Regions from separate parts of the Homo sapiens genome. Here region 2 is linked to region 1. Evidence: fine-mapped expression QTL. A gene starts in region 1. The other region holds a variant in brackets. All regions are shown on one strand. Distances are from middle to middle.

Evidence for each region.
Region 2: its variant is fine-mapped to the expression of POLR1D in whole blood (INTERVAL, PIP 0.93).

The regions. Positions count from the first base shown.
Region 1 is chr13:27,619,396-27,624,770 of GRCh38, forward strand. POLR1D (RNA polymerase I and III subunit D) reads left to right here and starts at 2,497. Exons shown (of 2, transcript NM_015972.4): 1 at 2,497-2,614; 2 at 3,480-4,054. The coding sequence starts at 2,589. The coding sequence ends at 3,855. It overlaps LNX2 (ligand of numb-protein X 2), which reads right to left and starts at 1,134. Exons shown (of 10, transcript NM_153371.4): 1 at 980-1,134. RefSeq lists silencers at 684-1,573, 2,194-2,753 and an enhancer at 1,162-1,890.
Region 2 is chr13:27,656,517-27,661,891 of GRCh38, forward strand. It overlaps a transcript of POLR1D not described here. Among named protein-coding and RNA genes, the nearest start is that of POLR1D, 37 kb to the left of the region's middle. The variant T/C (reference allele first, on the strand shown) is at 2,024.

The DNA.
Region 1 (5,375 bases):
AGTGCTGCATCGAAGTACATGCAAAAGAAATATCAAAACCTGTCCTGGGAAGAAGGCCAATTTACAAGTAAGTACTATTGCCGCAAGAATGTGAAATTCTTAAAGGCAGTTCCAATAAGCTGGAGCTCACAAGTGTTCCTCCTCCTGCACCGCCACCGCTTTTCACTCAACTTTGTTTCTGATTTCTGTGATTTTAAAAAGCATAATATACACAGCAAAGCCCATGCATAAGTGTACTTTAGCTCCTGGTACAAACGAACGTCTGGATTCATAAACTTAACGTAAACTGAAATACTAAAAGAAACACTACATGAGTCAAAAGTCCTTGTTTAAAACGTGGCATACAGCTTTGAAAAGCGAGTGATGTATTTCCTGAATGATGCTTTGTGTGCAACTGCTTCCAAATCAAGATTCATATTTTTAAATTACCCCCTGGAAGATGTCAAATCTCTCTCCCACCCTCTCCAGCCTAAAGAGAAAGGTGAGAATTCACAGGCAACAGGCTGGGGCGGAGGGAATGATCTCTCCCCATCCCTTTCCAGAGAACAAAACCCGATAAAGGCAGCTAGTGCCACTCTCATTGCCGACACCACACACACACAGAGGAAATTTAAACACTCACCCCACCTCTCCCTTCCCTTAAGAAGCAAACGACGCCAAGCTCTGCACCACGGTGGCCGGAACCAGCAAACGCTAACAGCCGGAGGCCGCCCGCCTCCCGGGCGCCTGCAGGCGGCGGGCACCGGGCGCCGACTCTCCCTCCTGGACCAGACCCACACCCGAGTCCACGCCAGCCCCGCAGCCCGGGCGAGCGAAGACAGCCGCGAAGGACCAAGGCTCCGGGGCGAGCTGTGGCGCCGCTCCGGCCGCCTCCCGGGGCGCGGCGCTGACCCACACCCAGCTGACGCCCGCACCTGAGGCGGCTGCCCGCAGCCAGCGAGAGGGCGCGCAGCGAGGCGGGCAGGGCAAAGTTACTCACTGGGAAAGCGCGGCTGCCCGGGCCGCGCACGGGCTCCTGGCGCCGCTGCTCGGCACCAGCTCCCGCTCTCCGCGGCCCGCTGAGGGAGCGGAGAGCCTGCCCGGCTCCGCTCCGCCAGGAATCGCCGCCGCCGCCGCCGCCGCCGCGGATTTCCTGGCAAAAAGCAAACTCCGGCCAAGACTTCACTTCTCAACCGCCCCTGCTGCCTTCCCGGGGGCAGCGCCAAGGCCGAGCGGCCCAACCCGCACCCGGGCCAATCGGAGGTAGCACAGGGCGGGAGGTGGGCGGACCAGAGGGCGGCTCCACCTATCCGAGAGCTCGGGAGGCGGGCCAGAAGGGACCCGTCACTCCCGGGTTAGAGTGAGACCACTCCGCCCTCGCCGCCCGCCTCCCCCACTCGCCCCGGGCTGTCCCCGCCGCCCGCCTGATTCCCCTGCGGAAGCCCCGCTGGCTAGGTGTCTGCGCGCACCCCCGGCCGCCGCCAAGAGTGGCACAGCTGGGGAAGGAGTGAACATCCAGAGGAATCGCGGGGCGGGGTGGGGGGAGGCCAGGAGAACAGGTGGCGCAGGGAAGCAGAAACGTAGTTGCGCTGGACAGCTGGAGTCGGGCAGGGTCGGGGCCAGCGGCGAGGGGACAAGAAGGGCCGATTCGAGAGGAAGCGCACCTGAGGGAGCACAGCGAAGGCCGGGACGCAGGGAGCTGGATGGAGAGCGAGCCTGGGCGGCGAAAGGTTGCCGAGGCGGGGGCTGGGCGCCTGGGAACAAAGGTGAGGGCGGGTTCCGCAGGTGAGGAGGTTTGAGGAGCCACTGGGGAGAAAGGGAAAAGGAAGTCTACAGCCGGAGAGGACGCGCTCTGGGGGTAGAAGGAATCCTAGGACGGAAAGGATAAGGTGGGAAACAGTTTTCTCCCAAACTCTCACTCCCCCAAAAGAGACATTTCTTTCTTGCCCTATTTTGACCCAGTTGAAAATGCAACTGCAAGCTCCCCGGTGAAACAAATACCGCCTTCAACCTTCGTATTCTGTGGTGACTCATCTCGCACGTGACCCCCCTCCCTCTTCAAGGTGTGTTGACCGACTACAGTTTAAGCCTGTCGTCCCACAAAAGGCCCGGGAGGGCCGGGGTCCCAGGAAGGGCCATCCTGGGTCAACACCGCCCCAGTTGGGAAGTCGGGCCGCTTTCGGACTTGCCACTGGGAAGGGAAGTGATTTGGGGGCGGCAGGTAAGGCCGCGCCCCTTCGCCATCACCTGGGGAAAGGTACCAGAGTTGAGCCGGGGCGCCCGCAGGCCTGTCTGGGCCTCGGGGTAAGGCGGCGCTGGCCCCGCCCCCTGCCCCTCCCGCCGCGAGTGGCCTCGCGTGGTCGCCCAGGTGAGCCGCGGGGCCGCGAGCCACCGCTCACCCCGCGTCGGGGCGGGGGCTGGGGGTGGAGCCTCATGCCCCGCCCCGCGGCTGGGCCCTGCCGCGCCGCTGCGGCTCCTCCTCCCTCCTTCCGTCCTCCGCGCCTTCCGTCGGTCGGTCCTTGCTTCCTGCTTCGCCTCCGCGCCTCGCGCTATGGGACAGAGCCCCCGATCCGCCAGCACCACCTGAGGATCCAGAAACCGCCCCAGCGATGGAAGAGGATCAGGAGCTGGAGAGGTAACGGCCGAGGAGGAGGCGGGCGGAGCGGGCCGCGCCCAAGGGGAGCGGGTGGCCGAGGGGCACGCTGCCTGGCCTGGCAGCCGGGGCCTGACTCGGGGCGCAGAGAAGAAGCATGGAGAGAGAAGTGGGGAGGAGACATGAATGTGTTTCAGTTGAGAGGCTGAGAGGTACACTAGCTATCAAGGAGGGAAGACAAGTTGGGAGACCAGAGTTAAGTATCCGAACTGCCCACCCCCGTTACAACAGCAGTGTGTAAAAATCACGCCCCGGGCCTCTGCTCCTGAGGACGGTACTCGTGCCTCTGTCCCTGTAACTACGGCTCACCTTCTTTCTATGTGCAGACTGCTCCTAAAGCCACTCTGTGCGCTGAGCTCTTTTTCTCCCTGCTGCTTGACTCCTGAACCTTCCATTCTCCTAGTTTCCTTCTCTTGCAAAATGGAAGCCGTAGTTGGGCCTGCACATTGATCATCTGTATCCTCTATTTTTATACTAGAGCAATCGGGATTTCTATGCCTTTCAACCCTCTCTTCATCCTCTAGCAGGACCAGTCCTATTCTAATCCTATCCCTTGCTTGTGACTCTACCAAAAAATATTTTTGCAAACACTTAAGTTTGTGTTTTTCTAAGAAAACTCCCCTTGTGGCCAGTGTGGATGGTCAAATGGAGCAGGGAAAAACTGGAGGCAATAAATTAAATATTTATTGATAGAGTTTGTGGAGGCAGGAAAATGAGAGGCGAATAATTCTGTGTAGCTGGAGTAGATTAATAATAATGTGTTGCAATGTGATATAGTAAATGAGAAAAAGCTAGTTACAAAACAATATTCAGTATGATCTCATTTTTATAAAAAATATGTGTGTAGAAAAATATCTGGATTGAAGACCTCAATGGCTGAAGGCGAGAGGAAGACAGCCCTGGAAATGGTCCAGGCAGCTGGAACAGATAGACACTGTGTGACATTTGTATTGCACGAGGAAGACCATACCCTAGGAAATTCTCTACGTTACATGATCATGAAGAACCCGGAAGTGGAATTTTGTGGTTACACTACGACCCATCCTTCAGAGAGCAAAATTAATTTACGCATTCAGACTCGAGGTACCCTTCCAGCTGTTGAGCCATTTCAGAGAGGCCTGAATGAGCTCATGAATGTCTGCCAACATGTGCTTGACAAGTTTGAGGCCAGCATAAAGGACTATAAGGATCAAAAAGCAAGCAGAAATGAATCCACATTCTAGTCCTTTATGCAGTATACAAGGAGAACTGTCCTGTAGGATATTCTCTTCCTGATGGTGCAGAACCCAGAATTAGAAGTTTGTGGTTACAGCATACTCTGTCCTTCAGAAAGGCGTGATTCTAGCTGTTGACCCCTTGCAGCTGTTGGAATCTCTGCAAGAACCTCTGTATTCTTCTAATAAATTCCCTCTTTTATTTAAACTAGTTTGACTGGTTTCTGTTCCATGCAACCAAATGGTCCTTGAGGATGACTTTTTTTCTAATTAAGCCAGCATTGAAAATGAGGAAACTGAGAATATCAGAGGCCTAGACAAGAACTGTGATCATGGGAATTAAAAGAAGTATATATCCATGTCTGTAGTTGGAGTGGTGGGGGTAAGGGAAGAGACAAAAACCATGACCCCAGTTAGATTGTTGTTTAAAAACAGAAGGAAAGAAGATTGGGGTGGGGACTTGGCTTCTTGCTAAACTTTTTGGCTTTTAAAGAATTGCATCATTTGCTGTGATTGGTAGACTTGGCAAGGGTGGGAATAATTTGGAAGAAGTGTGAGAATTCTGGTTTTACATGAGAGTTTTAGGGAGTAAGGCTCCATCTTTGAGGCATTTACAGGAAAGATACCAGTTTACTGCTTGAATTTTGGGATATACTTAGTCATGATCTAAGTAAGGTAAGATGTTTTGATTATATTACAGAAGGAGAAAATTGGGATGACTAGAAAACATTTTCAGTCCTTAAGTAGGTATAGCCTAGGGTAATGTAGAAGAAGCCCTATTTGAGAGAAGGTAAAGCCAAGGAGAAGGAAAATTCCATATAGGGGAAATGACTGTTTTGGAAAACACATATCCCACCCGCCAGTGCTCTGTGCTTTGGGCCCTTGTTTATCTATCCCCTCTTCCTGGGCCAGTCTTACTCCTGCCGTACTCTTAAGTCAAAGCTTATGTGTCAGGCCTCTCAGCCTAGTTTGGGTACTTCTTTGTGCTTTCATTACACCCTGTGTTTCCTGGCCTTGGCATTTACTATGCTATTGGTAGTGCTTATCTTGTTTACCCACTAAACCAACTTGGAGGTCAACATGATTCTGGTACCTGGAACACCTGACAGGTAGTGGACACTTAGTAAATACTCTATGAATTCATGTAAGTAGTTATGGCATGCAGCTTTTCAGTCACTCAAACCTGACCTCTTACACTAGCGTGCCATAGAGCCTACATTTCCTACACTCAGCCAAATTCTTTAAAGAGATATCCATATTTTTGAGCACTAGTATGTTCCAGGCCTTGGGGATAGATATATAGCTATAGTGGATGAGACAGAGTAAGTCCTGTTCTCATAAAGCATGTGTTATAAGAGCCCCTTAAAAAAAAATTGTGAGGCTCGGCATGGTGGCTCACACCTGGGAAGCCAAGGTGGGAGGATCACTTGAGCCCAGGAGTTTGAGACAAGCCTGGGCAACATGGGGAGTCCCTGTCTCTACAAAAAAATAAAAAAGGTAGCCAGGCATGGTGACACATGCCTGTAGTC
Region 2 (5,375 bases), 37 kb after region 1:
ATGGGGGTGGGAGTGCATGCATAGGTATTTATATTCCTCTTAAATAGCACTTAAATTTCACCATTAGATTGGCAGAAATGAAAGAGGCAGTAATCCAGTGGAGATGAAGGGATGTGGAAAGGGGTGCAGTGTTGTGCTTCAGGCAGTGGTGTGGTTTGCTCTGTGCAGGGCCATGGGCAAAATGTTGAGTCACAGTTCTCTGTGCCCCTTTACCCAGGATCTCTGCTCCCAGTAATCCCTCTTTCATAGAACTTAATAAATGTGTGCAGACCTAAGTACAGAATTATTGTAGCACATTTTGATAGTAAAAAAAGGGAAGCAGTCCAAATGTCCATAGATAGGAAAATGCTTAAATAAACTGTGGTACATCCTACTGTTGAATATTTTACAGTCACTAAAAAGAATTGGTCAGCACTATATGAATCCTTGTGAGAAAATATCTACTATGTATGTGAAAACCTGAGTTGTGGATCAATGCATGTAATCCTCTATTGGCCAGGTCAGGGAAGGCCATGGGACCCCGTAACGCATAAAGGTCTGTGAGAAGTTAGGCCTCCTAACAGTGAGCACTAAGGGGAGCATGAGAAGCAGGGAATGCTATCCATTGTAACCCTCTACCAGGGGCTCTGTTACAGTAATATATAACAAATATGTCTTCTATTTATCACTTTTTAACAGAGTTTTTTTAATTAGAAAATAATCTGGAGAGGTTTTTAAAAATACAGATCTCCAGCCAGGCGCTGTGGCTCACACCAGTAATCCTAGCACTTTGGGAGGCCGAGGCAGGTGGATTGCCCGAGCTCAGGAGTTCAAGAGCAGCCTGGGCAACACAGTGAAACCCCATCTCTACTAAAATACAAAAAATCAGCTGGGCATGGTGGCGCCTGTGTTCCCAGTTACTCAGGAGGCTGAGGCAGGAGAATCACTTGAACCTAGGAGGCGGAGGTTGCAGTGAGCCAAGATTGCGCCACTGCACTCCAGCCTGGGCGACGGAGCAAGACTCCATCTCAAAAAAATAAAAAATGAATAAAAAATAAAAATACACATCTCCTTCCCTGCCTCACTCTAGGGCATTCTGATAGAGAAGTCTAAGATCGGTCCTACAGGTTTTTTGTTTGTTTGTTAGTTTTTTAAGCTTACTAGAAGATCTCATCAATCAAGTTTGGGAAGCACTGCTCTGAACAATTGAGCAAGTCAATCCCATAGAAGACTTCACTTCATTAAAAATAAAAAGTTTATCTGCATTTTTCTCTATCTCTCTCATAATGTTCACATTTTGATTCTTGATCTGTGTTGCTCTGGAAGCAGGAATCTCTGGGTACTTGCTTATTCCAGGGGCAACTGTTTTTTCCTAGCCAGAGTTCAGTCCAGCAGTTCAGCACACCCAAACAGATATGGGCTATGAAAGGAGGTCTGGACCCATGACAACCGTGGCTTGCTTCTACTCACTAGTGCTGGGACAAAGGGCACCTGCCCTTCATCTGCTCGTTCTGGAAGATCACCTGGTTTCCATTTATTTAAATAAGTGTATGTGAGAAACTTTTAACCACTAGTCATTAGTTCTCAAATTTATCTGCACATTTGGAATCACCTGGAAAGCTTCAAAAAATACTGATGCCTGTGCCCCACTATCAGTGATTATGAACTTGGGGTGTGGCCTGGGCTTTGGAGTTTTAAAGAGCTACCCGGGTGATTCTAAAGTGAACACAAATTTGAAAAACATTTTACTAGTCCCTTTTGTTTTATTAAAAAGAATGATACCAGCCTGCTCTGCAGAATCCAGAACAATCCTACACCTCGGCCAGAGGCAGACAGCTCCTCTGCACTGAAATAGCACTTAGGTAGCCTGGCCAGGTGTTCAGCCACAAGAGTCCCAAGACCCATCGCTGTGGAGTGGACTTCTTGGACAGTTCTTAAAAGAGTAGCAATCTGTTGTTCACTAGTGGCCATGGCCTGTTTTTTTCTAAGTATCTAGAAGACCTTTTATTTGCTTTAAAATTTAAAATAGAACTAGAGTGAGTGG[T/C]ATTATTTTTTTCATTTTGGATATTCCATAAGAAATAGATGGTTGAGCAGTTGCCAGAGAGAGATTGCTGATCTAAAGAAAATGCAAGTGGGATGCCATTTTTTATTTTATAAAGAAAGAGACCATTTGGTGCTATATTCTTCCTTGGATGTATTTCAGCAAAAGAATCTCTTTAGAAGCTGTTGTTGACAGATGCTTTAGGAGAAGCTGAAATATTGGCTCATATGACTTCCTTTTAGTCAACATAAAGGAATTTATAAGCATAAATTTCAGAAATTTGCCCAGCTTCATTGTCTACAAAGCTGTTTTAATTCTGGTCACATTCACTTTAGCTTATCTACTGCCCAATATAATTTCTGAGTCTAGTGCCTGTGGAACTTCAGCCTTATACTTGGAAAAGCTTATATTTTGGCAAAATAAATCCTAAAGGTTGAATTGAGAGAAAATGATTCTTGAGTTCTCTTAACCCAATTGTTTTAAGGGGAATGACTTTTTTTTATGCTTTTCTGTTTGGATTGAGAGTCAATCTAGAGATATGGAAGGAAGTCACCCATCTTGTTCTTCCAGTTTATGTCATCAACTGTTGATTATTGGAAACTAAATAATTTCTCCAGTCTTTATCCAGACATGTGTTTATTTATTTATATAAATATTCACAGGGCACCAGCAGGTATGTTAAGAGGCTGATCATGGACAGCAGTAAAGAAGACTCACTTTCCTGGCCTTAAAGTTTTTAATCCCCTGGTGGATACAGAAACAAGCATCAAGTGATCACAGTGTGGCATGCCACACTGACTGTGTTAGAACCAATGAGGAGGGGAGCAAGGGCTCACATCTCAGACGATTCGTGGAGGAGGCTCTTGGCAATATTTTCAGGCCACAGAGATCCAAAGCCTTTATACGTATAGAACATGAAACCCAAAGAGTTTTCCTAAAGCCCTGGCTAGCGAATTGCTGATGGGACTATAACTTTGCTTTCCTATCTGTCACTTAACACTCCTTGTATGGCATCACTTCTCTCTGTGGATTATTGTCTGATAACATGCTGAAATGCCAATGCTTACTGCCCCTGCTTCCCACATTCCTTTCATATCCAGTTATGAAAGTGAATGAGAGAGCCCTGAATGTGTTACTGTTAGAGCACATATCTATGTAAATGATTTGCGTTGCTGAGGGAGCTGGAGGCCGAGGATTATAGCCTTGCAAACTGTCTCAGTGTGTTACTATTCACGTATCTGCTTCTGAACTTTGACTTCCCCTACCTTCTGTTCCTCTTGGTAGTCTCCAAAGACAGAGACACATAAACAGATAGCTTGGTATGTATCTTTGCTACAGTGCTTAGCATAATGCGTTGCATATCTCAGGTGTATATATATATATATATATACACACACATACACACACACACATACATATACAGACAAACACATGTCAATGATTTTTTATTACTTTTAGGTACAATGTTGGAGACAGTCATTGAACACCCACTGTGAGCCTCAGGACTGTTGTACACAGTAATTAAGGGTTAACAGCTTACTAATAGGGATTATAACACCATAAAAAGCATTTTTCAGGTGGCCACATGCTGAGGCATTTGATTGCCAAATTATAAACTGTAGCACCATGGGTGGTTTTGGTAGTTGTGGCAGCATTAAACAACAAAATGAGTTGTAATCAACCACAGCATCAAGATAAAAAATATTCCCCTTGTTTCATGCAGAGTTGGGAGAGTTAGGCCTCTGCTTCAGTCTTTCTAGATGCATTATTCCAGACCTACATCCATGAGAGTGCAAAGACACGTACAGAATGGAAGATACGCTATTTGCTAGTATGGGAATGGATTTGTCCATAGAATAAAAGAACGCATTGAAGTGCACTGCATGGAAACTTGCTTCCATGACTCCAAGGTGTCTATTCCCTAACCATAAAAATAATTCTTATTTCCCACTACCTGTTCGACTTCACACATCTCAGAGTCAGGCATGTTTAAGGGACTCTCCACCTTTGTCCTTGGCTGTGTTGGTGACTCTCCTGGGCTCCTGAGTGGCCAGCTGTTCTCAGCAGACCTGTCACTGTGTGTGCATCTGCTGCTTCATGCCTGTCCTGGATGAGGAGCCTTAGCCACAGCGTGCTGACAAGCTTTTCACCTGCGGTTTCTTTCTTGACTGCTCTGTTAATTGGCCATCTGGTTGGACTGCAGTGAGTCTTTCTCTGCTCCACTCTCTCTGCCCCTTTCCAGACTCCCTGCTTCCAGTCTGGCTCCGCATCTTACTAGCTTGGGATGTGGATAGGCGCTGTACCTTTTTTCTTTTCTTTCCTTTCGGATGACGGCTGTGGAGATGAAATGAGGCAACATTGGTAATGGAATAGCACAAGGTAATTGTGTCTTCAACGTACCCTGTTGGCTGGCGATCCTGTGTCACTCTCAGATAGGTCCTATTCAGGAAATATTTTAGAAGCAAAAGGTAGCAGGTCTAAATCTGTGGAAAGTTAGATACTACTACCTCTATCCTTCAGCAAGAGAGACAAAAAAGATGAAAAGCTTATAATTCTAGCCCCAGTGAGTCTTCATCTCTCCAGTGGCAGATTCTTGAGCAGTCAGCCTTTCCCATGGCATGTGGAACCCTTCCATCACAGCCTCTGAGCCCACAGGTTTCAAAGTGAAGGAAATTGCTTTCCTTTTAAAGTTTAACCTGGATAGAATGCCAGATCTCAAATCTGACATTGTGTCATGGGTACTTTCCAAAGCAGATTTAACCAGTCTCATGATATTTAGGGTTTATATCCATTTATGTTGTTAGCACCTTAAATCTGGCTCTTACCATGTGAGCTAGCATAACTTTCTAGAAACAAAAATAAACTAAATATAAAAATAACTAGCCAGGGTGAGAAAGTCGCCCCCCAGGTCAGAGCTAAGACAGGAAATCAGCTGCCCTGTCCTGTGGCCTCCTCCAGTCCTTCCCCCAGCACACCTTTTGGGCATAGACAGTGACAGACAGTGCAGACACAGCAGGCAGCCGTGGCCTATGATCTTATGCTCAATTTCAGGGCTCAGATGGTTACCCTAAAGCTGATACGAGAAAAGCCAGGAATGGTGGAGTGTCTAATGCCAGTTTATCATGTCATCTCAAATACTGTGGAAGATCGGGGGAGGCGGGAAATGGCAGTAAGAAATAATTTCCTAATGTGATGAATGAGAAGAGTGAACTTTTCTAAAGAGTTAATGTACAGAGCATGAGCAGAGGATCCTAAAACTGGAAGGGACTCTAGAGATCACCCACCTACTTCAACCGTTAGTTTTACGTCTGAGGACAGAGGCCTAGAGGGTTTGTGGAACAGTTGGAAATACAAA